Regions from separate parts of the Homo sapiens genome. Here region 1 is linked to region 2. The links come from fine-mapping of genetic effects on gene expression. A gene starts in region 2. The other region holds a variant in brackets. All regions are shown on one strand. Distances are from middle to middle. Region 1 has its middle 25 kb from the start of SPOCD1. Region 2 holds the start of SPOCD1 (SPOC domain containing 1).

What was found. PIP is the estimated chance that this variant, and not a neighbour inherited with it, causes the effect. A credible set is the group of variants that fine-mapping cannot tell apart.
Region 1: its variant is the best candidate, but not a certain one, in a credible set for the expression of SPOCD1 in atrial appendage (GTEx, PIP 0.87).

Annotation. Positions count from the first base shown.
Region 1 is chr1:31,832,815-31,848,381 of GRCh38, forward strand. No RefSeq gene overlaps it. Among named protein-coding and RNA genes, the nearest start is that of SPOCD1, 25 kb to the left of the region's middle. RefSeq lists silencers at 1,919-1,988, 5,518-5,701. The variant G/A (reference allele first, on the strand shown) is at 7,893.
Region 2 is chr1:31,808,686-31,824,252 of GRCh38, forward strand. SPOCD1 (SPOC domain containing 1) reads right to left here and starts at 7,337. Exons shown (of 16, transcript NM_144569.7): 1 at 7,276-7,337; 2 at 5,266-6,687. The coding sequence starts at 6,648.

The sequences.
Region 1 (15,567 bases), 24 kb after region 2:
CTTCTCACCCCAGCCCTGCCATTCAGTGGCTGTGTGACCTTGGGCAAGCAGTGTTTCCTCTCAGAGGATCATCAGGGAAACTGACAATGCTAACAACATTGATTTTTTTATATATATTACATATATATATCACACATATATTACATATATATATTACATATGTGTGTGTGTGTATATATATATATATATATATATATATATATATATATATATATAAAAGCAAACAACCGATACTGGCAGAGACCTTGTGGTTGATGACCAATCAGCTCTGGGACTCAGGGTAATGGTGTCCCCTCTCTGAGCCTCAGTTTCCATCTCTCTGAATCAGACACAGCAGCCCTGACTTACAAAGCTGTTGTGAGGATGCAGCAAGGTCATGGATAGCAGCTGCTGACAGCGGTAACGCCTGACGGGCACCTGAGTTATCTAATAGTCCATCTTCCAGTCTGAGGGTATGGGGAGACACATTTATTTTAGCTGTTTGTAACTATTGATCCATCAGCCTTGGAAAATGCAAAGAAATGCATCAACAGAAAAACCCTTCACATCTTGAGTTGCTAACAGGCTGGTCCTGCCAGTGGGTAAACAACTTCTGTGCGATTGACTTCCCCTGCCATCAGCTCAGCACTCTTGGCAACTTGTTTTGTTACCTAGGACAAGACACTGGTTTAATTAAAGCAGATCCTGAATTGTGGGCAGGAGCTCCCACTTTCCCTTCTGCAGGGAATCTTAGCAGTGATGTCAAAGGGCATAAATCTGACTTCCAGGGCCACTGAGCCAGCCTTCTTCAAGCAGACATGCAGGGGCTGGATGGTCCATGACCTCAGGGCCACACTCATGGGTTGTTTCTTCCTTCCCTTCCTGGGACTGGTCTATCAGGCTCCAAACCCCTGTCCCTCCCTCATTTCTGACCCTGAGATGGATACAGAACTTCATGACAATAACATTAATAAAAATACACAATCCTGGCCAGGCACCGGTTTACACAGTCCCAGCTCTGGGATTATAGCTGTGAGCCACTGCATCTGGCCTACCATTGTTATTTTAAATCTTTCTTGACCTGAACCCTCAGTTCATTTTTAAAACTCTTCCTTTGGCAGGACAAAGGAACATGGTGGCTCATGCCTGTAATCCCAGCGTTTTGGGAGGCCGAGGTGGGCAGATCACTTGAGGTTAGGAGTTCGAGACCAGTCTGGCCAACATAGAAACCCTGTCTCTACTAAAAATACAAAAATTGGCCAGGTGCGGTGGCTCACGCCTGTAATCCCAGCACTTTGGGAGGCTGAGGCGAGGTCGGGAGTTCAAGACTAGCCTGGCCAACACGGAGAAACCCCATCTCCACTAAAAAATACAAAATTAGCTTGGTGTGGTGGCACATGCCTGTAATCCCAGCTACTTGGGAGGCTGAGGCAGGAGAATAGCTTGAACCCAGGAGGCGGAGGTTGCAGTGAGCCGAGATGGTGCCACTGCACTCCAGCCTGGGCAACAAGAGCAAAACTCCGTCTCAATAAATAAATAAATAAAAATAAAAATACAAACTTAGCCGGGCATGGTGGTGCACACTTGTAATTCCAGATGCTTGGTGGCTGAGGCATGAGAATTGCTTGAATCCAGGAGGCAGAGGTTGCAGTGAGCCAAGATCATGCCACTGCACTCCAGCCTGGGCAACAGAGCAAAACTCTCCCTAAATGAATTAAATAAATACATACACAATTCCATCACATTGCAGTCCTCAAGGGAGATTTCTGCAAGAGCTCAAGAGCCCTGGGCCAAGGCACTACATGCAAAGGCTCTCTTCCCTGCCACCTGCAACCTCTGCACCTAACAAGCGAGAAGAAATTCATGTTTTGCCCACGCTGAGCAGGATGATCACCTGAGGATACGAGTAACCCATATAGGACTGCTGTCACCAGGTGGGGGCGTTGATCTGACAGCATCCTATAAGAGTCCAGGCTCTCGATTCTCATTCTCTTGGGTTTCAGTCCCGGCTATAGCTTTGGGTGACTCTAGGCCACACTCTTAACCTCTCAAACTGTTAGTTCCTCAGTGTGTGCCCCTTGAATAACATGGGGGCACTGACCCCTGCATAGTCAAAAATCCACGTATGTGAATAACTTTTGACTCCCCCAAAACTTAACTACTAACAGCCTACTATGGACTGGAAGTCTTACCAATAACATGAACAGTTGATTAACACATATCTTGTATGTTTTATATATATTATATACTGTATTCATACCACAAAGTAAGCTAGAGAAAAGAAAATGTTATTAAGAAAATCATAAGGACAAGAAAATACATTTACTACTCCTTACGTGGAAACAGATCATGGATCATCATAAAGGTCTTCACAACCTTGTCGTCTTCATGCTGAGTAGGCTGAAGAGGAGGAAGAGGAGGGCTTGGTCCTGCTGTCTCAGGGGTGGCAGAGGCAGAAGAAAATCTGCATGAGAGTGGACCACACCATTCAAACGTGTGTTGTTCAAGGTTCAGCTCCATATGTATTTGTTTATTTGCGTGTTTATTAGTATTCTTGCATGTAGACAACAGAGTCCACTCTGGCTAGTTTCCGTAGAAGGAAAATTTATTTAGGGATGTTAGAGAAACAGGATCTGGATGCAGCTTTCAAGAGCCTCTCCAAGAAGCATATTGCAGAATCAGACTCATGGAGGACCTGCCACCACTGTCACTGACTCCAGGCCACACTGCTTTAACTGCCACCAGGCTGGCAGAAAAAGGATGCCCTGCACACAGCTATTCCCATGCATAGCTCATCACTCAGTTGGCGTCTCAGGTGGGCAAGGATGATTGGAGGAACCAAGGTCACATGCCTGCACCCTAGCTGCAAGGGAGGCTCACTTGGCTCTGAGGAGGAACTCAAGATATCAGGAATCCCACTCCAACGTCTTCCACTTGATTGCTTTCTTGGGTCCCTAGTAAGTAGTTCGAATGCAAAAGAAGTTGGAAATTTTAAGCTAAAAACAAGTTATGTTAAAGAAGAAAAAATCTGGAGAATTTAATTAGAAGTAGTTCTTCACCAATAGACAGCCAATCAACTGTAAGTTCAGGCAAGCTGTCCTGCTGCATCAGAAACGTTTAAAAACCTGTATTCCCAGCTACTGGGGAGGATCGTTTGAACCCAGGAATTCAAGGCTGCAGTGAGCTATGATCACGCCACTGCACTCCAGTCTGGGCAACAGAGCAAGACCTCTCTAAAAACGAAAAGAAAACACACACACACACACACACACACACACACACACACACACACACACAAAAGGAAATGCTGAAAGGATTGCTTTCTTTTCCACAATAAGTAAAAATCCTCCAGAAAACAAGAGGAAAGGAAAGGGAACCAATACTTGTGTGTTTATTGTGTGCTAAGCATTTTACATGTATTCTTTCTTTTAATTTTATTTATTCATTTTTTGAGACAGAGTCTCACAGACAGGAATTTTTTAAATTGTTGAGCAGCAGTGAAAGATAAATGGTCAGTACAGCTTCCTTCCTGTGTCCCTCAATTAGACTGTAAACTCCAGGTAGGCAGGTACCTTGAATATCTTGTTCATCACTGTATCTCCAGCACCTAACATGGAGCCTGTGATGAAGAAACAGATAAAGGAAACGTAAACAATAATAGAACCACCTCAACTTTGAGGCTTCTGGCCAGCTTACCATCTCTCAAGGGGCTACGTCTCCAAACCTTTGGAAGAGCTCTTCCTTATTCATGGAATGTCCGTTCCTCCACACCCCCTTGCCTGATGGTGAAGTTGTCTCTGTCTTTCTATTCTCAGCTTTGACTCACCTCCTCCTGGAGGGTTTCCTTGATGTACACCTCCATGCCTATCACCTCTGTTGGCATCACCACCACATCCTTGCCCTAACAGCTAGTTTTGTATGGTAGTTAAGAAGGCAAGCTCTGAAGTCCAACTGCCTGATTTCGAATACTGGCTTCAGCTCTTATTGGCTGTTGGTGCTTAGGTAAGTCGTGTGGCCATTCTGAGGATCATTCTCCTCGTCTGTAAAATGGGGCTAAAAATAGTAGCTAAATCACAGGATTGTTGTGGTTTTAAATGAGATAGTATATGCAAGTTCTTAGAATGGGGCCCGGTACAGAGAGAGAGGGAGCGTGCAAACAACCTCTGCTGCTGTTGCAATTCTTTACTCTTCTAGAACTTAGCAGGGCAATATTGTAATTGTTTTCCAGTTTGTATTCCCAACTTAACTGAGGCCTTCTGGAGTCAGGAACTGGAGTGTCCTTTACTCCCATACCTCTTCATGCACCTGCCATCCAGATCAGATGTTCACATAATATTTGTTGTATAAACTCAAAGAAATCACAAATGCAAAGATGGAAAGATAAAACGTTTAGGGTGTGTATAATAGAAAAATAACTAAAACTAAAATGTCACCTGGGAGTGGGGAAAATGGAAAATGGCTAATAGCTACGTGGTGTAAAGATTTTATACACATCAATAAAAAATATCTGAGTTGCTAAGACAGATGGGTACAAAGGTCATGAGCAGGCAATTTAAGTAACTAAATAGAAATAGTAAGTAAAATATGGAAGAATACTCAGTCTTCCACAAATGAGCTACAAATGATAGCAACAGTATCATAGAATGCAGAATTAAATATAGAACCATCCATAACTGAGAAATGTCCAATGGCAGAAGAATGGTTACATAAATAATGATATATTGGCTCAATGGCATGGTGTTCCACCATAAAATAATTATGAAAATGTTGAAACGAGTGTTTATGACATAGAAAGTTTGCAAGCAGATTGCAGAACTAAACTTAAAGCATCATCACCGTGTGCGAAATGTTCATCTGGACTTGATCGAAGCTTGGCAGAGAATATAAGAAAATGAACACAGTTGCCTTGATAAAAGAGAGAAACCTTACTGAGTGCCCCCATAGCCCTGACTCCATGCCCAGGGCTTATACACATACGATCTCACTGAATCCTCCAGTTCTCCCCAGCTCCCTGTGAGCTAAGAGTCATTCCCCTTTACAGGTAAGGCAGCTAAGGCAAAGAGAAGGGCAAGAAAACCTGCCTGAGGTGGTGCAGGCAGTAATTAGCAGAGAGGCGTGCCAACCCTGGTGTGTTGGACTCCATGTTCGGTGCTCTTTCCAACTCATCAGATGTGTAAGATGGATGTGATCCAATAGTTTTATTTCTCTTTAAACATTGCCTTTAGTGCTGTTTAAATGTCACTTGCGCAATTAAAACACAATTAAAAGAAAAACCAAAGCTGTCTCAGGAAGGCAGCTTAGTCTCTGTTCCTCCAGAGAGCTCCATGGACCAGAACCCCACCCTGCTCCTGGTCGACACTCATGGTTTTGCCCAAACAATCCCAGGACACAGCCCTGCTGAATTTTCTGTCCCTCTTCATTGGATTTAAAGCCCACAGGAGGCATCTGGCATTTCCTCCACCCCTCTCACCAAGACTCTCCTTTCATTTGAAGGTGCCCAGGAACTCTAGTTACCCGTGTCATGGGGACCCCAGTACTATTGTCAGTATTTCAGAAAGCCAAATAGAAATTGTGCTATCATCCTAACAAGGCCTTGTGGGCTGACAGAGTGCCCCTACTGTCCATCCTTGGATGAAAATGTGTGCTGACCCTGTGCGCCAGGAAAAAACGTACAGAATCCCAGGTTGCTGAGTTTAGGGGAGTCAGGGAGGTCTCCCTGGGGAGTGGACTTTTCCAGCTGAGATCTGGAGGGTGAGTAGGAGTCAGCCAGGCGAAGAACAGAAGAAAGAGGCTCACTCTGTTGTCCAGGCTGAAGTTCAGTGGCACAATCATAGCTCATCATAACCTTGAAGTCAAACCAAAAGTAACATAAAAGAGAACGCACTGATGCAACACGTAAGATAGAAATGAAGAAAGAAAAATTAAATGAGAAAAAAATTTTAAAGTTTAAATGATAAGAGAGAAAATGTGAGACCCTGTCTCTAAAAACAATAAAATAGGCCGAGCACAGTGGCTCACACTTGTAATCCCAGTACTTTGGGAGGCAGAGGCGGGCGGATCACCTGAGGTCGGGAGTTTAAGACCAGCCTGACCAACATGGAGAAACCTCGTCTCTACTAAAAATACAAAATTAGCCAGGAGTGGTGGCACATGCCTGTAATCCCAGCTACTCGGGAGGCTGAGGCAGGAGAATCGCTTGAACCCGGGAGGCGGAGATTGCGCCATTGCACTCCAGCTTGGGCAACAAGAGCGAAACTCCGTCTCAAAAAAAAAAAAAAAGCCCTGAGGCAGGAAAGATGGGGAGCTTTCAAGAAAATGAAATGAAAGACGCACTGTGGACCATGTGTGGAGGCTCACGCCTGTGCTGGCTCACTCCCAGCACTTTGGGAGGCTGAGGCGGGCAGACCGCTTGAGGTCAGGAGTTCAAGACCAGCCTGGCCAACATGGTGAAACCCCATTTCTACTAAAAATACAATGACCCCAAAAAACCATATACACATGTCAAAGTCACTGAAGAAGGAAACTCAAATAATGGTATCAAAACAATATTCTATAATATAATGATCCACATCAAAATATATTCTATTGGCCAGGCACAGTGGCTCATTCCTATAATCCCAGCACTTTGGGAGGCCGAAGTGGGTGGATCACCTGAGGTCAGAAGTTCAAGACCATCCTGGCCAACATGGAGGAACCCCATCTCCACTAAAAATACAAAAAATTAGCTGGGCGTGGTGGCACATGCCTGTAATCCCAGCTCCTCCGGAGGCTGAGGCACGAGAATTGCTTGAATCCAGGAAGCAAAGGTTGCAGTGAGCTGAGATTGCACCACTGCACTCTAGCCTGGGCAACAGAGCAAGACTCTGTCACACACACATGCACACACACACACACACATATATATGCTATTTAAAAAGTATTAGATTTTAAAGTTAAGAAAGATTCCTTTGAGAATCTAAACATAAAGGAACAAGTTACTTAAAAATCCCAGGCTGGCCTCTGGCTTCTTTACAGCAACATCCAGCATTAGCATACAATAGACAGATACCTACAAAGTCATCAAGGAGAGAAAGTGTGACTCAAGAATTTTATTTTCAGCCAAACTGTTGTTGAAGGAGAAAGGCAAAAGACAAAATTTTTGAACATGTGTGGGAAGTTTGGAGGCTGAGGCAGCTGCACAGTCTGGATTTGTTGGAAGAATAGGATTTTTTTCCTTATGGTGACCCAGAGTTTTACTTAGGGGTTCATTCACACATTTATCCAACAGATTTTTTTTTTTCTCTCTCTCTCTCTTTTGAAACAGGGTCTTGTTCTGTTGCCCAGGCTGGAATGCAATGACGTGATCACGGCTCACAGCAGCCTGGACCTTCTGGGCTCAAGCGATCCTCCCACCACATTCCCCCAACCCGAGTAGCTGGGACCACAGGTGTGTGCCACCATGCCGGGCTAATTTTTTTTTTTTTAATTTTTTGTAGAGATGGGGTCTCCCTAGTTTGCCCATGCTGGTCTTCAACTCCCCGCTCAAGTGATCTTCCTGCCTCAGCCTCCCAAAGTGTTGGGATTACAGGCATGAGCCACCATGCCTGGCTTAAACAGATTCTTAAAGACTAGAGAAGGTGTTGGGCCCTGTGTCCGGAACTGTCTTATACCAAATGCTAAGAAGGGTGAGGGGAAAGTGTCTTTGCAGAGATGAGTTGGCCTTTGAAGGTGAGTCAGAGTAACTGAGAGGAAGGGGATCCCAGGCAAAGAAAAGGGCATGAGCAGTCGGGCGCGGTGGCTCACGCCTGTAATCCTAGCACTTTGGGAGGCCAAGGCGGGTGGTTCACGAGGTCAGGAGATCGAGACCATCCTGGCCAACATGATGAAACCCTGTCTCTACTAAAATACAAAAAAATAGCTGGGGGTGGTGGCAC[G/A]CGCCTGTAATTCCAGCTACTCAGGAGGCTGAGGCAAGGGAATTGCTTGAACCGGAGAGGCGGAGGTTGCGGTGAACCGAGATCGCACCACTGCACTCCAGCCTGGGCAACAGAGCAGCCTCCGTCTCAAAAAAAAAAAGCAAAATAAAAAAGAAAGAAAAAGGAAAGGGCGTGAGCAAAGGCAGTGGGCATGGAGGCACGGAGCAGATATTCTAAGGCAGAGGCCAAGCTGTCATCATGGATAGGACCTGAAATGTCCAGGTGTTTGGAATGGGAGAAATGGGTAAACCCGGAAGGCTCAGGGTTGGGAAAGAGGGAGAGAGCCTGGACACTGGTCTTTCAAGAGGCTCAAACTTGGCTGGACGCAGTAGCTCACGCCTGTAACCCCAGCAATTTGGAAGGCCGAGGCAGACAGATCACTTGAGACCAGGAGTTTGAGACCAGTCTGGCCAACATGGTGAAATCCTGTCTCTACCAAAAGTACAAAAATTAGCTGGGCTTAATGGCGCACGCCTGTAATCCAGCTACTCGGGAGGCTGAGTCAGAAAAATTGCTTGAACCTGGGAGGTGGAGGTTGTAGTGAGCTGAGATTTCGCCACTGAACTCACTCCTGCCTGGGCGACAGAGTGAGACTCAATCTAAAAAAAAAAAAAAGCACCAGCACCGCACATGTATACATATGCAACTAACCTGCACATTGTGCACATGTACCCTAAAACTTAAAGTATAATAATAATAAAATAAAATAAAATTTAAAAAAGGCTCAAACTTTATCCCACAGGCAATGTGGAGCCATAGAATGAGTGAAGCAGGAAAACTCAAGGAGACAAGGAGATATCTTGAAACCTTCGCAATGAGAAAAGGTTCGGAGATTTTGTGAGAATTCAGCCATTCCCACAATTGCTTATAACAGTCATACCTAACGGTGCACACTAGAATCATTTCCTGCAAAGTCAGGAACAAGGCAAACTTGCCTACTATTGCTACTTTTTGTTCAGCGTTGTATTGAAGCCTCCCACCAGCACAGAAAAAGAAAGACCTTAAGGATTACTGTGACCATCTACGTATTTTTCATTGCTGAGTCAAAGAAGGTGCTTGTATATTTCCCTCTTTCTTCATCTTTATGTTTTTCCTGGAGTTTTAAATTGTCTTTCTTTTGTTCTTACACTATCTGCCTTTATTACTGAGGGCAGAAACTTCCCAACAAATTGGAAAGGTGGATATTCCTATTTCCTTTCTACAGATAGAGGAGGCTCAGAGGAATTGGCAAAGTCCACAGGAAATACACAGTGGAGCTGGGATTCTTTTTTTTTTTTTTTTTTTTTTTTTGAGACGGAGTCTCGTTCTGTCGCCCAGGCGGGAGTGCTGTGGCGCGATCTCCGCTCGCTGCAAGCTCCGCCTTCCGGGTTCACGCCATTCTCCTGCCTCAGCCTCCCGAGTAGCTGGGACTACAGGCGCCCGCCACTGCGCCCGGCTAATTTTTTGTATTTTTAGTAGAGACGGGGTTTCACCGTGGTCTCGATCTCCTGACCTCGTGATCCGCCCGCCTCGGCCTCCCAAAGTGCTGGGATTACAGGCGTGAGCCACCGCGCCCGGCCGGAGCTGGGATTCTTAATCTGTTTCGTGGGATGACTCTATCAACCTCTGGGCTGGCCCCGTGCAAAGAGCTGGAGTATGCGTTGGCAGATACAGAGGTGCGGTAGGTATGTCTCAGTTATGCGAACTTCATAAAGTTCACAAAGAAGAGGACAGTTGCAGGAAATCCCAAAGGCCACCAAATGAAAGAAGGTCCTATGAAGCGATGCCTGGAGGCCCAGCCACACTGGCCAACGCTCAGCTCTCCAAAGGGCCGAGCCACCTCTGTGCAGCAGCAGGGCTTTTGGATCTTTATCCCCCTGCCTAGAATGTTCTTCTCTGCTCTTCCTTGGGTTGGCACTTGGGTAGCATTTCCTTGGGTTGCTCAAGGCTTTGTTACCAAGTCAGGGTCCCACCTTCCCTAGGCAGAATGCTTCATGGAGGCTCCCCAGGCCTTGTGCAAATGGGGGTCTATCGTATCAGGTCATCAGACTAGTCCATTCCTGTCGCAGCCTTGGGACTAGTGGACACCATCTCTGGCCCTTGCAGAAATACATGAAATGAAGCACTTGGAAAATTCCATGTTAATCAGCACCTGGAAGCAGAGGACTTCTTTCTGAGCATAAGTGAGAAGCCCTCAAGGGCTCCCAGAAATACCTGGCTCCTCTCTCTCTCTCTCTCTCTCTCTCTCTCTCTCTCTCTCAACCACCACATCTAATCATCTATTTACTCAATACATTGTGTGAGCACTTCCCCGGTGCCAGCCTGTGCTAAGCACTGAACACCAGGGCAGGCTGTTCCTGGCACAAGGGCACACAGCCCAGGGGCAAGTAGGGCTGAGATCCAGCCCGGGGACCGTTTGCCAAGCTGTGGGCCCAGAGAGCAGCATCTGCCCCAAAGGATTCCTTTTTCTAATTCCCTCAAAAGCACTGCATGCGCTGGCTGCAGCCCTGCACATTAATGAATTAAACCCACATGGTCCCTGCCCTTGTGGAGCTCCAGTCCAGTGCAAGACAGACACATAATTAAACAATTAAACATATAATTAGAATTCACCCTTATTTTGCTGGTGAGGAGACTGGGTTTCCTAGAAACTAAGTGACTTAAACAGTTAGTGACAGGGTCAGGGTTCAAACTCTCATCTCCTAGCTCCAAAGCCACAATCTGTTCTACAGCGTGATAGAGGCATTTGAGCTACATCAGTATTCATTCTGAGCATCAGCCCTGATCTCCAGCATTTCAGATTCTCCCTCTTTCTGACCCATTTGATTACAAGCTCTGGTTCCCCTCATCCTGAAGGTCCCTCCTCTTGACCTTGCCAGCTCCTTCAGCTCATCCCAGCCTCTCTCCTCCCTCTGGCTGCCAAACCTCTAACTTGGATCCACCTGCTTCCTATTGCCAAAGCTTGCAACAGTGAATGACTCTTGCAGCTGGTACTTCCTGTCCCAGGCGTCTTTTGGAGCCAGTCATGCATCCCAGAGGCTGGGCTGGGGATAGAACTGAGCAACAGTCCCTGGGCCATACTCAGAATTCCATTCCCAGTGGCAACACAAGCCATCACAAATCTAGGAATAAGCTGAAATGAATAAAATTATGAAACTTTACTGAAGGTCATAAAAGGCGATCTGAATCAACGGAGAGACTTGCCATGCTCCTGGGTGGAAAAATTCAGTACTATAAAGATGTCATTTCTCTTCGGAGTCATCTACAAATTTAATGTGATTCCAATCAAAATAGCAAAGACATTTTTTGGCCAGGCATGGTGGCTCACACCTGTAATCCCAATGCTTCTGGAGGCCAAGATGGGAGGACCGCTTGAGGCCAGGAATTTGAGACCAGCTTGGGCAGCATAGCAAGACCTTGTCTCTAAAAAAAAAAAAAAACAAAAATGTAATTAGCTGGGCATAGGCCAGGCATGGTGGCTCACGCCTGTAATCCCAGCACTTTGGGAGGCTGAGGCAGGCGGATCACCTGAGGTCAGAAGTTCAAGACCAGCCTGGATAACGTGGTGAAACCCCATTTCTACTAAAAATACAAAAAATTAGCTGGGTGTGGTGGCGCGTGCCTGTAATCCCAGCTACTCGGGAGGCTGAGGCAGAATCGCCTGAACCCGGGAGACAGAGGTTGCAGTGAGCCGAGATTGCACCATTGCACTCCAGCTTGGGCAACAAGAGTGAAGCGAAACTCCGTCTCAAAAAAAAAAAAAAAAAAAAAAAACGCTGGGCATGGTGGCAGGAGCCTGTAGTCTCAGCTTCTCAGGATGCTGAGGCAAGAGGCTCCCTTGAGCCCAGGAGTTCAAGGCTGCTGTGAGCCCTGATCACGCCACGTATTCCAGCCTGGGAGAGACAGAGCAATATCCTGTCTCTAAAAAAATTAAAAATAAAGACATTTTAAATGGAATTTGACAAGCTGATTCTCAGGTTAATCCGGAAAGAAAAAAATACAAAGAGAATACACAACAACAGAATATCCAAGAAAAAATTTTCAGTAGTTTTTATTGTGGTAAAATATATGTAACATAATATTTATCATTTAAACCATTTTTAAGTGTACAGTTCAATGGCATTCAGTACCTTCACACTGATGTATAACCACATCACCACCATCCATCTCCAGAACTTTCCATCTCATCTTCCCAACTGAAACTGTGTACCCATAAACACCAACTCCCCATTCTCCCTTCCCCACAAGAAAAAAATTTTAATGAATAAAAACAAGAAAACTGTCAAGCCAGAAATAAAGATACCTTATAAAACAAGATAAATTATATCTATCAATCATAAATGTAGCATTTCAAATCCATGAGGAAAAGATAGACTATTTAATAAATGGCATTAAGACAAATGGCTCTCCAATTTTAAAAATAGAAAATTTGAACTCTACCTCACACCAGACACACAAAGTCCCTTGAATTTAAAGAACTCAATGTAAAAAAAAAAAAACCCATAAAATCATTAGAAGAAAAGTAAGAAAGGTGGACAGATTTGACTACATAAAAACATTTAACTTCTGAATGACAGAAGACTCGATGAGCAAAGTTATAAGATGAATAACAGGCGGGGAAAACAAACCCACCATAGACATGCAGAAATGGAACAAAAACATATCTTGAAATAATAACAATTTTGCTTTTATTTTTCCCACTTCCTCACATCAATCAGAGATTTAAAATTACCTAGGAGAATTTGTGCTTTTATAGCAGGAATATAAAGAGAGAGAAACAGTCAGTGTTTGGATGTCATTGTTTTTTTAACTTTCTGGATAGTCTACTGAAGCCCACATCAGAAATCACACTTTTGAAAGGCAAAGTCTTTTGATTTGCAAGAGGCTGCTTTTGCTGAGAGAAGAAAATGCTCTTGAAAATCAAAAGGGAAGGCCTTGGAGGAAGCTGAAGGTAAAATTTATGCCTTAACGATGGATTGAGAGGGAATGAGAAGACCCAGGTCGTGTCTCCCCTAGGGAAGTAAATGGGGTCACTGAGCTGGGAAAGAGAAAGGCAGTAGGAGTGAGAGTGACCTTCGAAGAGGTCAGGGGGATCCGGGATGGGGAACTGGACCTGTGGGACCCAAGGAGAGGAGTGGAGTCAGTGCCCAGAGACAGCTAAGTCCACTCCGTCACCACTACTGGGGAGCTTCCTGGGGACTGGGCCATCACCAGCAGACCTTCTGTGAGCATTCAGCTGGATACCACAGGCCACCTTGGCTGAAGAGCCACATTAGTCATTGTATTAATCCATTCTTTCATTGCTATAAAGAACTACCCGAGACTGGGTAATTTATAAAGAAAAGAGGCTTAATAGACTCATGGCTCTGAAGGCTGTACAGGAAGCATGGCTGGGGAGGCCTCAGGAAACTTAAAATCATGGCAGAAGGTGAAGGGAAAGCAAGCACATCTTACATGGTCAGAAAAGGAGGAAGAGAGTGAAGGGGAGGTGCTACACACTTTTAAACAACCAGATCTCATGAGAACTCACTATCACGAGAACAGCAAGGGGGATGTCCACCCCATGATCCAATCACCTTCCACCAGACCCCTCCTCCAATATTGGGGGTTACAATTCAACATGAGATTTAGGGGGGACACAAATCCAAACCATATCAGCCATTCAGCTCTGCACTGTCTGACGAGGGCCTTCATTGACAGCTGTCTGGAGTGCTCAGCAGGCGTGATACCTACTCATGTCCTGATACTTTGCTGAGGACCCCCATCCACACTTATCCCTAGTAATGCCTTCCCTTTTCACATGGCTCAGGACATTCACCAGCCTCCCAAACCAAGGGTGGGATCTTTGATACCCACAGAGGAGGCAGTAATATGGAGTGAAGACTGCCTGCAAGCTGTCCTTGGGTAGAACTAGATAATGGTATAATCTACCCTGGTTAAAGTGATCCACAATATATAAAGAGCTCCTATAAATCAACAAAAAGGAGGCCAACAACCTAATAATTAAATTGGCAAAAGATATGGAAAAGAGAATTCACAGAAGAAATACAGATGTCTAATAAGTATATGAAAAGATGTTCAGTGACTGTTCTAATTAGAAAAATGCAAGTTAAAACAACAATAAGATATATTTTGCTTAGCAAACTGGCAAAAATTTAAAAGGCAGATAAGGGAAAAAAGCACCTTCCTTTGCCATTGGTGGAATTATCCATGGGTGAAGGCTTAGTAAAGGGCAATTTTGTAATTCTATTGAAATTTTAAATGTGTACAGTTTTAAACCCAACAATTCCACTTCAACCAAAATGTCCAACCAGGGGATGGCTGAGAAAGTCATGAGCAAAGGGGCCTGTCTGACATGTGTGTGTAGAATGGTTTTGCAACATCATTGTTATGAAAAACTGGATTGGGAGTAAAGTTGGGGATGTTGCCATTTAGGTGGTGATCATGATAGGCTGGACTGAGAACACGATCCTTGAGTGACCCATAAAAGAGGTGAGAAGTGACCCATGCATACTTTTGGGAGAAGACATTCCAGGAAAAGGGAATAGCCAGTGTAAGGCCCTTGGGGGAGGTGGAAGCCCATGCCTAGCATGTTTGGGAAAGTGACGCCACTGTAGCTGGAGCAGAGTGGCAGGGAGGAGGGAGGGGGACTGGGAGGAGGGCACGCCAGGGAGATCCCCAGAGGGGAGGTGGAACCAGTAGGCACATCACTCAGGGCCTTTCAGGCCATCATAAAGGCGCTTTGGTTTTGCTTAGAAACTGGAAGCCACTGAAGGGATTTATTATTTAGATTAAAAAAGCAGAATGTAAAATCAAAGTATAGGATGCTATATTGAAAAAGTCATTTTAAAAGGTTGAAAGGGAATCATCAAAATTGACCACAGCTGCCGAGTTAGGGTGAAGGGATTATGAATTTTTTCCTCTATCCAACTTAATGTTTCTGTGTTGCACGTTTGTGATTAAAATATGTTTCTAAGAGTTTTTAAAGTTGTGGTGGGTTTTGTTTTGTTTTGTTTTGTCTTGAAAAACTGACTCTCGATAGGAAGGCAGAAAACTATTATGAGGGGCCGGGCACAGTGGCTCACGCCTGTAATCCCAGCACTTTGGGAGGCCGAGGCAGGCAGATCACTTGAGGTCACGAGTTCAAGACCAGCCTGGCCAACCTGGCAAAACCCCGTCTCTACCAAAAATACAAAACTTAGCCGGGCATGGTGGTGTGCGCCTGTAATCCCAGCTACTTGGGAGGCTGAGACAGGAGAATTGCTTAAACCTGGGAGGCGGAGGTTGCAGTGAGCCAAGATTCCACCACTGCACTCCGGCCTGGGTGACAGAGCGAGACTCCATCAAAAAAGAAAAGAAAAAGAAAACTATTGTGAAGGAGGAGGAGGTGTGCAAAAAGCAATGGAGTTAGAGGCAGGTGGAGGGTGGGGCCAGGACCGAGACAGAAGTGGGGCCAGGGGTAGGGAAACTGGTACAGAGGTCGGGGGGAGGGAGAGAGGGGGACACTGAGGCAGACAGAGAGATGGGAAAAGTGAGACCAAGAGAAGCAGAGGTGAGAAATAGGGAGAGACAGAGACCAGGACAAGGGCAGGGGCCCGTGGAGGAGGCCACCTCCATGGTACTCCCTTCAGGACCTCAACACCCCATCAACCTCTCG
Region 2 (15,567 bases):
TTAGCTAGTACAGTAAGGAAAGGGAAGGGAAGAGAGATGTAAAGAACTGGAAAGGAAATAACAAAAACTGTCATTTGTCTACATAGAAAACAAACAAAATCCAAATAGATAAATTATATAGATTAATAAAAGCAAGATTTCTGGATGCAAAATCAATAAACAAAACTCAATTGTGTTTTTACATGGGAGAAAGTGTAGAAATGCAAAACATATGCAAAGCACAAAACAGGCCAGGCCTGGTGGCTCATGCCTGCAATCCCAGCATTTTGGGAGGCCGAGGATCACCTGAGGTCAGGAGTTCAAGACCAGCCTGACCAATATGGTGAAACTCCGTCTCTACTAAAAATACACAAATTACCCGGGCATGGTGGCGGGTACCTGTAATCCCAGTTACTTGGGAGGCTGAGGCAGGAGAATCGCTTGAACCTGGGAGGGGGAGGTTGCAGTGAGCTGAGATCATGCCACTGTACTCCAGCCAAAAAACTTTTTAAAGAAAAGACTTAATAAGAATAACCAAAATGCATGAAAAGATGCTCCTTAGTAAGAGGGCAGTGGAAATTAAAACAACATTGAGACACCACAGCATATCTCCATTTCAGCAAAAAACCTAAGTCTGCTACCATCAAGGGCTGGTGAAGATGTGAAGTCACCAGAATATTCATACACTGCTGATGGGGGTGTATACTATTTCAACCACTTTAGAAAACATCTGGCACCATTTAAGTTGAAGATGTGTCCACTCTATAACCTGGCAATTCCACCCCAGAAAATATTCCCTGGAGATACCCCATATGTACCAAAAACCATACAAAACTATCACAGCAGCACTATATGTAGTAGCCAAAAAAAAAAACACCAAAAAACCCAAATGTCCACATGGAGTCAACAAATAAATAAATTGGGGCATATTCATGCAATGGGGATACTTGGTGCCAACACTTAGGAACTGTGTGATCTTGGGAAAGTTACTTAATCTCTCTGTGCCTCAGTTTTCTCATCAGTAGCATGAAGATAATACCAGTATCTACCTCATGGTGTTGGGGCAACGATCATTATCACTATTCGAGACTCTTAGAACAGTGCCTGGAACAGAAGAAGCTCTCTCTGTAAATGCCTGTGTTGATAAAGTTCCTTGGTCCCTGCCCTGGAGAAAGGCCATCCTGACACTCGACCACCCTGCAGGCTCTCCATTTCCATTCAAGCTGGCCTCTCCCACCTGGCTCCCGTTCCACCTGTAACCCCCACCCTCTACTCCTGCAACACTCCAAGCTGCCTCTTGCAATGCAGCTCTGCAGAGCACTGCCCTCTTCCTAGCAAGCCTCTCCTACTTTCTCACCTGCTGAACACCTACTTCCCTTGCCTAGACCCAGTTTAGACAGCCCCCTCCTCTGCCCTCCCCTCCCCTCTGGACATCCACAGTCCACTGGGCTTCAGTCTGTATTTCAATTCTCTGGTTAGTGGTTTTCTCCTCCCACTAGACTGTAAGATCCCTGGACGAGCCCCCTCCTTGTTCAACAAATTATAATAAAGCCCCGTGAACAGTCAAGTTATGCAGGACTGGAGTCAAACCCTGGCTCGGCCACTTACTCGCGATGTGGCCTGAGTGAGTCACTTAACTTCTCGGAAGCCCAGTTTTCTTACTTAGTAAAATGGGGATATTAGTGTTGAATTTTTTTTTTTTTTTTTGAGACAGGGTCTCACTCTGTTGCCCAGGCTGGAAGGCAGGGGCACCAGCACAGCTTACTATAGCCTTGACCTCCTGGAATCAGGTGATCCTCTCACCTCAGCCTCCTGGGTAGCTGGAACTACAGGCACAAGCCACCATGCCCAGCTAATCTTTGTATTTTTTCTACAGACAGGGTTTTGCCACATTGCCCAGGCTGGTCTCCTGAGCTCAAGCAATCCACCCGCCTTGGCCTCCCAAAGTGCTGGGATTACAGGTGTGAGCCACCACGCCTGGCCGACATTGACCTTTAATGGTTAATGTAAGGATTAAATGAGATGACATACTTGAAGCTCTCAGTCTATAGTAGGCACACTAATGAAACGAGCTCCTCTTAGGCTGCTCTTCTGTTAGGAAGACACTCTCCTCCTTCACTCACCTCTTGACACTTTGCAGCTACAGACAGCATACCTTGAACCAGGGATTCTGGGTCAGGCCAGAGGAGCTGTGTGCCTCCCTGGTTATGACTGGTGGAATGTGAGCAGCCCAGGGTCACTGGCAGAGTTGCCCCACACACACACACCCACTGCTATCCCACCCATAGAGCAGCTCCAAACCTCACTGGCCACTGTGGGGCCCAGGACGGACAAGAGAATGGCATCCAGTCCCCCTCCCATCTCTCCTCCAAGAGTCTCTGGTTCATGCCAGAAGAATACAACACGGCCAGCCTCTGATATCAGACTCCTGGCAGTTCTGGGGCCCACTTCATTCTCCCCACTTCATAGAGGAGGCAACTCAGATTCAGAGAAGAGACATTTCTAAATGTCTAAAGTCTTTCTGCAGCCAGGCGCAGTGGCTCATGCCTGTAATCCCAGCACTTTGGAAGGCCGACGCAGCGGATCACCTGAGGTCAGGAGTTTGAGACCAGCTTGGCCAACATAGTGAAATCCTGCCTCTACTAAAAACACAAAAATTAGCCGGGCATGGTGGCCCACACCTGTAGTCCCAGCTACTCAGGAGAATCCCTTGAAACCAGGAGGCAAAGGTTGTGGTGAGTCAAGATTGTGCTACTGCACTCCAGCCTGGGTGACAGGGCGAGACTCCCATCTTAAAAAAAAAGTAAATTAAAAAAAAAAAAGTCTTCTTGCCACTGAGCTTAAGAAAGGAAGAAAAAAAAGTTAAACTCATCTAAATGTCTGAAGACATGTCTAAAGTCACCCTGTACTAAGAGGCAGAGCTTGACCTTGAACCTGTCTGCCCCTGCCACAAGCCAGGCTGTCTCCAGGGGAAGGTGCTAAGGCCCTAAACGGGGCTCCAGACCAGCCGGGCACTGTGCCCCCCATTGCCCAGGCCCCACTCAGCCCTGTCTGCAACCACCCGCCTGTCCCTGTCACAGCCCAGACTCAATTCTTCTCCCGCAGCTGGTACTGGTTGTCATGGCAACGAGTTGTTTGGAAAGCTGTGGGATGATGGGCTGTGCCGCAGTCAAGGATGGAGCCTGGAGGAGCCAGCAGTCATGGGCTGCTTCCAGTCAAGCCAGGCAGGAAGCTGGCTCCACCACCGCACTCAAACCAGCCCCCTTAAAGGCTGCAGACCCAGGAATCCCAATTCTGGGCATCTGGTCCAAATAAATCATGTGAAGAAGGGAGGAGCCAGACGCACAAGGATGGTCACCCCTGCACTACTTACAGCAGGACGAAATTGCTTATGTCACTAACAGGTAACCTATTTGAGTATTTTTCTTGCACCAAGCACTGTGTTAAATGCCAAACATGTGTCATCTCATTTCATCCTCACCACCTCCCTAGGAGGTAAGCACTCTTCATACCCACATTTTGCAGATGAGAGAATTACACTTGAAAAGGTGAAGCCACTCACCTCGGTTGTTCAGATAGTGGCAAAGTCAAGATTGAATGTTAGCCTATTGGCCTCCAGGGCTCATGCTCCTCACTACACTACAGTGGTTGGAAATGAGAAGAGGAAGTCCCAGCCCTCATCCCGACAGCGCCTGTGCCTGCGACAAATACATCCATAGACAGCTATGATGCAGGGCTCAGGAAAAGATCAAATTCGGCAGAACAAGGTGAACCCACTGGGAAAGACCTTCAAATACTACGGAACTTACAAAACCAAGCAAAGTCCTGGAACAATAAGGCATAATAGGAGCCTATTTATAGGTAAAAAGGCTTGATGCATAGTGGAAAACAGCTCACTGGTTCTATTTTACTAATTGGCTGTTTGGCCTTGAGTACTCATGTCACCTCTCAGAGCCTCAGTGTTCAGATCAGTGAAATGGGTATATGTCAATAGAGTCTACCTCATAGGCTTGTTACAAAGATTGCAGATAAAGTGCTTAGCCCAATATCCAGCACATGTTAAGCAAGCCAGATGCTGTTACGACTGTGCCGATAACACAGAAAATACACAGAGAAGGCAGTGCAGTGAGCTCTCAAGACAGACCGCCTAGGCTTGTAGCCTTGCTCCCATTCACCAGCTGGGTCTGTAACCTCACCTCCGTGGACGTCGTGTGAAGATTAAATCAAAAACATCTAGCACATCATGCATATTCAATAAATGTGATGAAAATCCAACTATGTGAGAAATATACACCAAAAACAAGTAGAGTCTTCTTCTGCCTTTGGTGTATAAATGTTAGCTATGATTATTAATAAAATGATGATGATTATAAGTAAAAGAACAAAGGAAAGGGAAGTGGTGATATAGGGAACATGGCTGGTCACTGACTCCCCAGCTATGTGAGCCTGGAGAATATTATTAACCCTCCGAGCCTCAGTTTCCCCATCTGGTTATATGGGGCTAACGCCTATCTTACAGGGTAACTGTGAACACTAAAGGAAAAGCAAATTTAACACGAATTAAGCAATTTACCTTGTGCCTTGTGCTGTGCTAGGCACCTTTTTTTTGTTTGTTTGTTTGTTTTAGACAGTCTTGCTCTGTCACCAGGCTGGAGTACAGTGGTGCGATCTCAGCTCACTGCAACCTCTGCTTCCCAGGTTCAAGTGATTCTCCTGCCTCAGCCTCCAGAGTAGCTGGAACAGGCATGTGCCACCATGCCCAGCTAATTTTTGTATTTTTAGTAGAGACAGGGTTTCACCATGTTGGCCAGGATGGTCTTGATCTCTTGACCTCGTGATCCGCCTGCCTCTGCCTCCCAAAGTGCTGGGATTACAGGCGTGAGCCACTGCACCAGGCCTAGGCACATTATTTTATACCATAATCTCATTTAATCCTTGAAACAACCCCATGAAGCTGCAATTAGTATCCTTTTTTTACAATGAGGAAACCTAGAGAGGTTAAGAAAACATCCCACAGTCATTCAGCTAGGAAGTGGGCAGAGGCAAAATTCGAACCCAGGACTCACTGACTCCAAAAGATAATGACCCCTCACAAGGATTCAGCGAATGTAGTTTATTTTCTCTTTCCCAGTTTGTGGGCCTCATTTTACCCAGTTTAGTTAATAGGGATGTGAGAATGTTCATGAAGCGCCCATCTAGCTTAGCTTTATTAAATTCCACTGCCAAGTATGGTATTGAGAAACATGGCCAGGCCCTTCCTATCCCAAACTCTCAGACTCAGCTCACCAGTCTGGGGCAGCCTCCTGGGCTGGGTTCCTCTGGCCTGTCCTGGTGGGAGTTGTCTGAGCTTCTGTCTGTGCCCCGGTCTTGGGCACAGGGCACTGGACCTTTCTTCAGGTTCTTAGTGCCCTTGGATCTTCTCTGCTCCATGAATGGGCCTGAGCAGGCCCTGCTGGCTTCAGTATCCAGGGAGGAGCTGAGGCCGCCCAAGGGCTCCCGGGAGCTGGCACAGGTGTCAGCGGGGGCAGCGAGTCCTTGCTCCAGCCTTCCCCTGGAAGCTGGCTGAGCCTTGGCCTCCAGCTCCTCCTGGTCCTGTGCTGGAGCCTGGCCTTCATCGCTGCCAGTCCGCACGACACACACAGCTTCTTGCTGCTCTGCAGAGGCCTGTGCTGACGCCCCCAGGCACAGTGCTGCGCTCTGTGGAGGAGCCTGTGCAGCTGAACTGAGGGACTCCCCTCCACTGGGCACTGGGAACCCGACAGGGCCACAGGGGCTGCCTGGCTGGGGCCCATCCCCTGTAGCGGGCAAATATCCAAATTTCTCAGTCCCTGAGGCACATCCTGCCCCACTTCCACCTGGCTCTCCAGGCCCAGACCCAGTGTCTTTTGGAGAGGGAGGTCTGCAAGGGCCTCCCAAGGACTCCAGGTCAGCAACTTGGGGAGGGTCTCCCACAGACAGGAGGTTGTCCCCACGAGGGCTCTGATCAAGCCACAGGAAGTCACCAGCCCCTTCCTCACACTCTGAATGAGCCCCTTGCCTCCTCCATTTCTTTCTTACCCTCACAGGGACTGGGTCTGGTGAGGATGTCAGGGGCCTTCCAGGGGGCTCCTCTTTGCTGAGTGTGGGGCTTCTTCTGTCACACCCTGGAGAACTCATTCCACCGTCTCTGGCCTCCCTGGGCCTGAGGCAGCTCACCTCCTCCACTCCTGCAAGCCTCTCCCTGCAGGCCAGAGCTCTCTCTGGGAGGCCAGCAGACCTGCTACAAAGTTTCCTGGGGCAACTGTCATCTAAGATGTCACACAGAGAAACCTGGAGCCTCTTGGAGGTCAGAGCTCTCCCCTGAGTAGGCACCGAGGGCAGCTGCATGTGGAGCCCAGGAGCCAGCATCGAGCCCCGGCTCTGTACCACAGCTAGCAGCTCCAAGACCCCTGGCCGGACCTCAGCAGCACCTGCAGCCCGGGAGCTGCCACCTCGAAGGGCCTCCTTCCTGGGGATCTTCCTTCTGCTGCCAGCCCTGACTCCGGGCCCAGAGCTTGCTCCCGGCCCATCTGGTGACAGGCCTGGCATGGAGCTGGCTCCTTCCATGTTCTGTAAAAGCTCACAGTTGTGTTGGGGACTGAGCACAGGGTCTCCTGTGCTGGGGCCTTCTACGTCCCCCGCCTGGGACATGTCTGTCCACCTACCTGGGCCAAAAGCACAACACGGGCCCTGTGTGGAGACAGAAAGAGGAGACTTTGTCTTGGAGAGTCCGACCTGTCAGCCCGTTCAGTGGGAACTGGGAGGAGCCCCTCTTCCAGCCAGCTCTCCCAGACCCTTCCACTCCTGAGGCCTAGGGGTGAGCACTCCAGGGAGGGGAGCACCCAGCAGGAGCTGGTGTCCTGGGTGAGGGTGGAGAGGCCTGCCTCCAAACAGGGCCGAGCTACAGTGGCCTCCAGGGTCTTCTTGTCTCTGAGAGTTCACACATTCGCTTAAATGGGACCTAATAAGATACCATTTATTTATGACTTATGTGCTTATTTCATTTCATACTGGCAGCCACAGGTGAGGACACTGAGATTCTGAGATGTTAAGACACTCACCCAAGGAAGCACAGGAAGTGGAAGGGCCAGGAGTCTCTCTCCCAGTTCTCACACTGCGCAAGGAGCAGATACTGAACGGGGTTCGTGCCCATAACCCTTCTCGTCTCTCTCCCATCGGTCCCGTTCTGAAAGGCGCCCCACCCAGGTTCCCAAGCCTTACTGGGACAGTCCCCCAGCATCCAAGAAATCCGGGCCCCATCGGTCGCGTCGCTCTCACCTGGGCTTCCCTGAGTTTTCCCTCCTGGGGTTCCACCCACTAGCTGAAAAGGAGCTGAGATCACGTGATGCGGGGGAGGGAGGCCCTTGCTGAGGGATAGGGGCGGAGTCCCTGATGATGAGCAAAAGGCTGCTCCCCAGGCGTGCTGGCGTTCCTGCCCCGGCAGAGGGCGCCCTCTTCCTCCTGAGGGCTTCCTGGAGGAGGTGCCAATCCTGGCTCCCAAGCAGAGGTAGGTGGGTGCATGGGGCAGCGAGGGGCCTTGGCTGCCTGCCTGAGAGTTTAACTTGATCCTACCGCAATAGTCCCTGAGCCAGTAGGACAATGTCAGAATTACCTAGATTTTTTGCCTAATTTTATTTTATTTTATTTTTAAACTTTTATTTTAGGGTCAGAGGTCCATATGCAGGTTTTTAATATAGGTAAACTTGTGTCACGGGGGTTGTTGTACAGATTATTTCGTCACCCAGTTATCAAGCCTAGTACCCAATATTTATTTTTTCTTATCTTCTACTGCCTCCTACCCTCCACCCTCAAGCAGGCCCCAGTGTCTGTTGTTAACCTCTTTCTGTCCATGTGTTCTCACCATTTAGCTCCCACTTATAAGTGAGAACATGCAATATTTGGTTTTTCCGTTCCTGCATTAGTTTGCTAAGGATAATGGCCTCCAGCTCCATCCACGTTCCTGCAAAGGACGTGATCTCATTCTTTTTTATGGCTGCATAGTATTCCATTGTGTATATGTACCACATTTTCTTTAGCCAATCTGCCATTGATGGGCATTTAGGTTGATTCCATGTCTTTGCTATTGTGAATAGTGCTTGCCTAATTTAAAAAGAAAATCTCAAATATAATTAATGTAGATGGAAATGCAGAATCAATTCCAATAGAAGGTTAGAAATAAAAAGTTTAAAGCTATCTCTCATTTCCCAATACCCCAACTCCTGGAAACAACTGTGTTTTGTTTTTTGTTTTTTACCATGTTTGTCATCATGTTAATTTTTTAAATTTCATAACTGTAAATAATATACTCATGCCTCTATTACTTGATTTATTAATTTTAACTGTGTCTGTTGTATCTGTTGACTTCCTGCTGTGGTGATTTTATTAACCACCCTTTCCCCCTTTCTCTTCCGCTTTTCATATATATATATATATATATATTTTTTTTTTTTTTTTGAAACAGCGTCTCGCTCTGTCGCCCACGCTGGAGTGCAGTGGCACAGTCTCAGCTCACTACAACCTCTGCCTCCCAGGGTCAAGTGATTCTCCTACCTCACCCTCCCGAGTAGCTGGGACTACAGGCACGTGCCACCATGCCCTGCTAATTTTTGTATTTTTCGTGGAGACAGGGTTTCACCATGCTGGCCAAGCTGGTCTCAAACTCCTGACCTCGTGTTCCACCCACCTCAGCCTCCCAAATTGCTGGGATTACAGGCGTTAGCCACCGTGCCTGGCCCTCTTTTTTATATTTATATTTTAAATTTTACTATTGGTTTCTATTATCACTTTGAATACTATTCTTAAATGTCTGTTTCTTCTGTATATTGTATCTCTTGACTCTTCTCTGTGTGAAATGGATAATTTCCCTTGATGTCCCCTCCCTGCTTCTGCCGTTATCCATGAACTAAGCTTTTATTTTTGTATCGCTGAGGTTTATAGCATTTACATTCTATTCGGTAAAGATAATTCAGTTTACCGTTGTTTACCTGTAGATTGATTCTTAACACTGAAAGCCAAATGACATTTATAATGTTATGATTATGTAAATACTTTTACTGCAGAAACAGTGGTGTTTGGCTTTTTTTTTTTTTTTTTTTTTTTTTGAGATAGGGTCTGGCTCTGTCGCTCAGGCTGAGTTGTGGTAGTGTAATCATAGCTCACTGCAGCTTTGACCTCCCAGGCTCAAGTGATATTCCCCTCTCAGCCTCCTGAGTCGCTGGTACTACAGGCATGCACCGCCATGCCCAGCTAATTTTTTTTTTATTTTTGGTGGAGACGAGGTCTCACTATGTGGCCCAGACTGGTCTCGAACTCCTGAGCTCAAGCGATCCTCCCATCTTGGCCTGGGATTTCAGGCGTGAGCCACTGCACCCGGCCAGAACCAGAGATTTGATAAGTCTGATTGCGAGGGAGATGGAATTCCCTGGCACTAAACCTGTGCCAGGTGAGACTGTGAGAACCTTCCAGGCCAATGGAATACTAAATCACAGTTAGACTCAATAAATTAGATCTATATATCAACATGAATGTATCTCAATGATATAATGTGGAATTTTAAAAACAGCATAATATGAATAACAAGGGAAACCGAGTCTGGAGTACACAGGAACTCCCTGTACTAATCTTCAGATTTTTCTGTAGATCTAAAACTATTCTAAAAAACAAGGTTTATTACAAAAAACAAACCAAGCTATTGGGTAATCCATATTGAAAACTGTCATGATCTGGCAGTCAGAGTCATAGATGAGGTAAGAGTAGAGACTGGATGTCACCAATGACCAAAATTACTGCTCTAAGGAAATAGTTTTTGTAAATGAGAAGCCCTCCCTCTAAGGAATGTCTTGGTCATGATGGCAGAAAGTTGACCAGGTTCCCTAAGACCAGTGAACCAAGCCATTCTGGTCCATTTGGATAATGGAAGTCTCCCACATTGGGCAGAGAAAACGGGAGTGGAGATGTTGTCAGTTCCACATGGTATAGAGATAAAGAATGGCTAACACTTACGTAGTGCTGTTTTGAGCCAGGGACTGGTCTAAATGCTTTACCTATATTAATCCTGTATTTGCCTGTATTAATTTACCTATATTAATCCTTACATCAAGTCTGTGAGGTAAGAACTGTTATTATCCTTATTTGACAGATGAGGAAATAGGCCAAGACAGATTAAGTAATTTGCTCAAGATTAGCAAGGACTGGTTTTAGAAGCCAGCCAGTCTCTGGCCAGTTTCTCTGTCTCCTGGTATTCTATTTATTTATTTTATTTTTATTTTTTTGTTTTTTTGAGACAGTCTCACTCTATCACCCAGACTGGAGTGCAGTGGCATGATCTCGACTCACTGCAACCTCCACCTCCCGGGTTCAAGCGATTCTTCTGCCTCAGCCTCCGGAGTAGCTGGGATTACAGGCGCACGCCACCACACCCAGCTAATTTTTGTGTTTTAAGTAGAGATGAGGTTTCACTATGTTGGCCAGCCTGGTCTCAAAATCCTGACCTCAAGTGATCTGCCCGTATCGGCCTCTCAAGGTGCTGAGATTACAGGTGTGAGCCACTGGGCCCAGCCTTTCTCCTGGTATTCTAAAATGTCTCTGTCATAAAAAAAAAATAAAGTAAGGTTTTGCCCAGGTTTTGGCCTAATGCTATTTGCCTCATCATTAGCTGTTTGCTCCATTGACTCATGACAGCACCTCTGCGATATACCTGGTTCCCATTAAAGAATGCAATTTATTTCTTGGCTTTCCTTTTTTTTTTTTTTTTTTTTTGAGATGGAGTTTCTCTCTCATTGCCCAGGCTGGAGTGCAGTAGCAGGATCTTGGTTCACTGCAACCTTCGCCTCCTGGGTTCAAACGATTCCCCTGCCTCAACCTCCCAAGTAGCTGGGATTACAGGTATCCACCACCATGCCCGGCTGATTTTTTGTATTATTAGTAGAGATGAGGTTTCACCATGTTGGCCAGGCTGGTCTCAAACTCCTGACCTCAGGTGATCCACCTGCCTCGGCCTCCCAAAGTGCGTGAACCACCACACCTGGCCTATTTATTGGCTTTCTTTTCTCTTCCATTGATCGATTTGTCTATTCTTGATCAATATTGTTTTAGTTCTATGGTTTTGTGATAAATATTGCTATCTAGGGAGCAAGCTCCACCCCCTCAACTTGGTTTCTATTTTTTATAATCGTCTTAGCTAACTGTATACCGTAGAATCATTTTGTCAAGATCCTTGAAAAATTGTGCTGGGATTTAAATTAGAATTTCATCGAATTTACAGATTAGGGATAAAATTGAATAATACTGAGTCTTCTCATCCATAAATGTACCTTATTTCCATTCTGCCAGGCCTTCAATTCATTTTTGTGATTTTTCTTCATCAAAATATTGCACATTTTAATTAAATTATTCTATTCTTTAATATTTTTATTGCGTTTTCTTTTTTCTTTCTTTTTTTTCTTTCTTTTTTTTTTGTTGAGATAAGGTCTCGCTTTGTGTACAGGCCGAAGTGCAGTGATATGATCACCTGGGCTCAGATGATTCTCCCACCTCAGCCTCCTGAGTAGCTGGGACTACAGGTGCCTACCACCATGTCTGACTAAATTTTTGGTTTTTTGTAGAAACGGCATCTTGCTATGTTGCTCAGGCTGGTCTCAAACTCCTGGACTCAAGCAATCCTCCCACCTCGGCTTCCCAAAGTGCTGGGATTGCAGACATGAGCCACCATGCTGGAGGCGGTGACTCACGCCTGTAATCCCAACACTTCGAGAGGCCTGGGCGGCAGATCACCTGAGCCCAGGAATTCGAGCCAGTCTGGACAACATGGTGAAGCCCTGTCTCTACAAAAAATACAAAATTATCCAGGAGTGGTGGCATGTCCCATACTCCCTGTAGTCCCAGTTATTGGGAGGCTAAGGTGGGAGGATGGTTTGAGCCCAGGAGATGGAGGCTGCAGTGAGCCAAGATTGTGCCACTGCACTCCAGCCTAAGTGACAGAGTGAGACCCTGTTGCAAAGATATTAATAGTATTCTCATGATTCAAAAATCTCTATTGTATTGATTACAGTCCCCTTTTAATTCCTAATACTATTTATTTGTGCTTGCTCTCTCTCAGTCATCCTAGGGTTTTTTGGTAAATCAGATTTTTGCTTTTTTATCTCTGTTTTTTATGATGTTGTTATTATATTTTCTATTTCACCATCTTCTGGTTTTACCTTTCTTATTTACTTTCTTCTATTTCCTTTGGTTTACTCTTGTTCTTTCATTTTTTTTTTAAGAAACAGGGTCTTGCTCTGTTGCCCAGGCCGAAGTGCAGTGGTGTGATCATAGCTCACTGCAGCCTTAAATGCCTACTAATTGGCCTCAAGCTAATTTTTAAAATTAGTTTAAATTATTTTGGAGAGATAGAGTCTCACTATGTTGCCCAGGCTGGTCTCAAACTTGTGGCCTAAAGTGACCCACTCCCAACACTTTGGGAGGCCAAGGTGGGAGGATCACTTGCACCCAGGAGTTTGAGACAAGCCAGACAACACAGTGAGACCTTGTCTCTATAAAAAATACAAAAATTAGCCAGACATGGTGGTGCATGCGTGTATTCCCAGCCTAGAGACAGGGTGTCTAGGGAAACAAAGTATTAGTGCCTAACATTTCTATTTTTTGTGAAGATGAAGTCTCTCTATGTTGCCCAGGCTGGTCTTGAATTCCAGGGCTCAAGCAATCCTCCTGCCTCAGCCTCCCAAAGCACTGGGATTACAAGCATAAGCCATCACACCCGGTGGCTACCTGTTATTATTAAAAATAAATGTAGTTTCAGGCCAGACATGGTGGCTCATGCTTGTAATCCCAGCACTTTGGGAAGCCAAGATAGGAGGATCACTTGAGGCCAGGAGTTCAAGACCAGCCTGGTCAACATAGTGAGACCCCCATCTCTAACTGAAAATAAATAAATCATACATAAATAAATGTTTCAGCCAGGCATGATGATGAACGTGTATAATCCCAGCTACTCTGGTGGCTGAGGCTGGAGGATCCCTTGAGCTCAGGAGTTTGAGACCAGCCTAGGCAACATAGCGAGACCGTCTCTCTATTGAAAAGAAAATGAAAATATACTTTTACTGCATTGTGATCAGTTAAAATTGTCTACATAATGTTGCTTTTTTTTTTAAGTTTTTAAGATTTCCTTTGTGATCTGATATACTGTCATTGTTAATATTCATTGTATGCTTGAAAAATGATTGAAATTCTCAGTTTAATAGTTTAAGCTTTTCCTTTTTTTTTCTTTTTCTTTTCTTTTTTTCTTTTTTTTGAGATAGAGTCTTGCTCTGTCACCCAGGCTGGAGTACAGTGGTGCAATCTCGGCTCACTGCAACCTCCACCTCCCAGTTCAAGCAATTCTCCTGCCTCAGCCTCCCGAGTAGCTGGCATTACAGGCACCCGCCACCGTGCCCGGCTAATTGTTGTATTTTTAGTAGAGACGGGGGTTTCACTGTGTTGGCCAGGCTGGTCTCGAACTCCTGACCTCATGATCCACTCACCTCGGCCTCCCAAAGTGCTAGGATTACAGGTGTGAGCCACGGCACCTGGCCAACAGTTTAAGCTTTTCTTACCTCAAGCTTTTTACTCATGTTTTTCAAATCCATAGTAATCTATAGTAACTTGAATCTACAGAAATCAGTGTTCAATGCAGAAAACAAAAACTACTCTAGATATTTTAAGCACAATGAGGTTTAATACAGGGCACTGGGTGTTTCAAAAGTCACTGGGAGGCCAGGCACAGTGGCTCACGCCTGTAATCCCAGCACTTTGGGAGGCCGAGGCGGGTGGACTGCTTGAGCTTAGAGGAGTTCAAAACCAGCCCAGGCAACATGGCAAAACCCCATCTCTACAAAAAGTACAAAAATTAGCCGGATGTGGTGGCGCATCCCTGTAGTCCCAGCTACTTAGAAGGCTGAGGTAGGAGGATGGCTTGAGCCCAGGAGGCAGAGGTTGTAGAGAGCCGAGATCGCACCACTGAACTCCAGCCTGGGTGACAGAGCCAGACCCTATCTAAAAAATGAAAAAAAAAAAAAAAAAGTCACTGGCAGGCTATAGGAGTGGACCCGAGGCTGGGCCTAGAACACACATTAGAACTGTATTTATAAATACACTGCTAGGGTAACAATACAAAGGTCTAATACAGGCACTGCCACTGCTGCTTCTACTGCCCACATACACAACACTAGGGGCCAGACATTGATGCGGGCAAACTCGATAGCTCCACAGTTGTGCTTGGAAGCAGTAACAGCCCACGGAAAAGGACAATGGTCTTGGCCTCTCATCTGCTTTTCAGATCTTGCACAATAGCAGTAAGTGTTGGAAAATAATTCACATCTGAAACACTCATTGTAAGGGAATCTGTGAAAGAGTTTTGGCTTTCTATCCTCTACAGGAAGGCATACTAGGATGTGGAGGATTGCTTGAGCCCAGGAGTTCAAGGCTTCTGTGAGCTATGATAGCACCACTGCACTCCAACCTGGGTAACAGAGTGAGGCCCTGTCTCTAAAAAAAACTTTTAAATAAAATTTTAAAAAATCGGCTGGGCACAGTGGCTCACGCCTGGAATCCCAGCACTTTGGTAGGCCAAGACAGGCAGATCACTTGAGGTCAGGAGTTCGAGACCATCCTGGCTAATGTGGCGAAAACCTGTCTCTACTAAAAATACAAAAATTAGCTGGGCATGGTGGCAGGCACCTGTAATCCCAGCTACTCGGGAGGCTGAGGCAGGAGAATCGCTTAAACCCGGGAGGCAGAGGTTACAGTGAACCAAGGTTGTGCCACTGCACTCCAGCCTGGGCAACAGAGCGAGACTCCATCTCAAAAAAAAAAATGTTTTAAATCTCACACAATTATTACGAACGTGTCAATTTTTTCCCTTTACCTCTGTAAGTTCCTGCTTTATATATATTTAAAAACACTTTTTTAGGAGCATGCAAATTCATAAATTTTTACATCTTTTTTGGAGATTATAACTTTCATCAGTGCCAAATGTGCCTTTTCTTCCTATTAATGTTCTTCTGCTTTAATTCAGTTTTTCTGATATTAATATTGGTAACTGCTTCCTTGTGGTAGTATTTAGCTAATATAGTTTTGTGGGGTTTTTTGTTTTTTTTTTGTTTTTCAGAGACAGGGTCATGCTGTGTCACCTAGCTTAAGTGCAGTGGCATGATTACAGCTCACTGCAGCCTCTAACTCTTGGGCTCAAGTGACCTCCTGGGCTCAAGTGATCCTCCTGCCTCAGTCTCTCAAAGTGCTGGGAATTCAGGTATGAGCCACTGCACCCTGCTCATTATTCATTTTTTACAGAGGAGGAAAGGTGGGCTTCAAATCCATGACTTGCTAGGGATTGCTCCGCTGGAGATAAGCGGAACTATGTCCAACCTCAAGTCCAGCTCCATCCAAAGTCCCTCCGCCAGACTGTATTCCCACAAGGGCGAGAACCAGACTGGGTCTGCCTTGTTGGCCAGCTCATTCACAGGGCCTAAGGTGGTGCCTGTCGTTTAATATGAAAACACACCCAGAGGCAGTCAGAGAGGGAGGAAGAACACAATG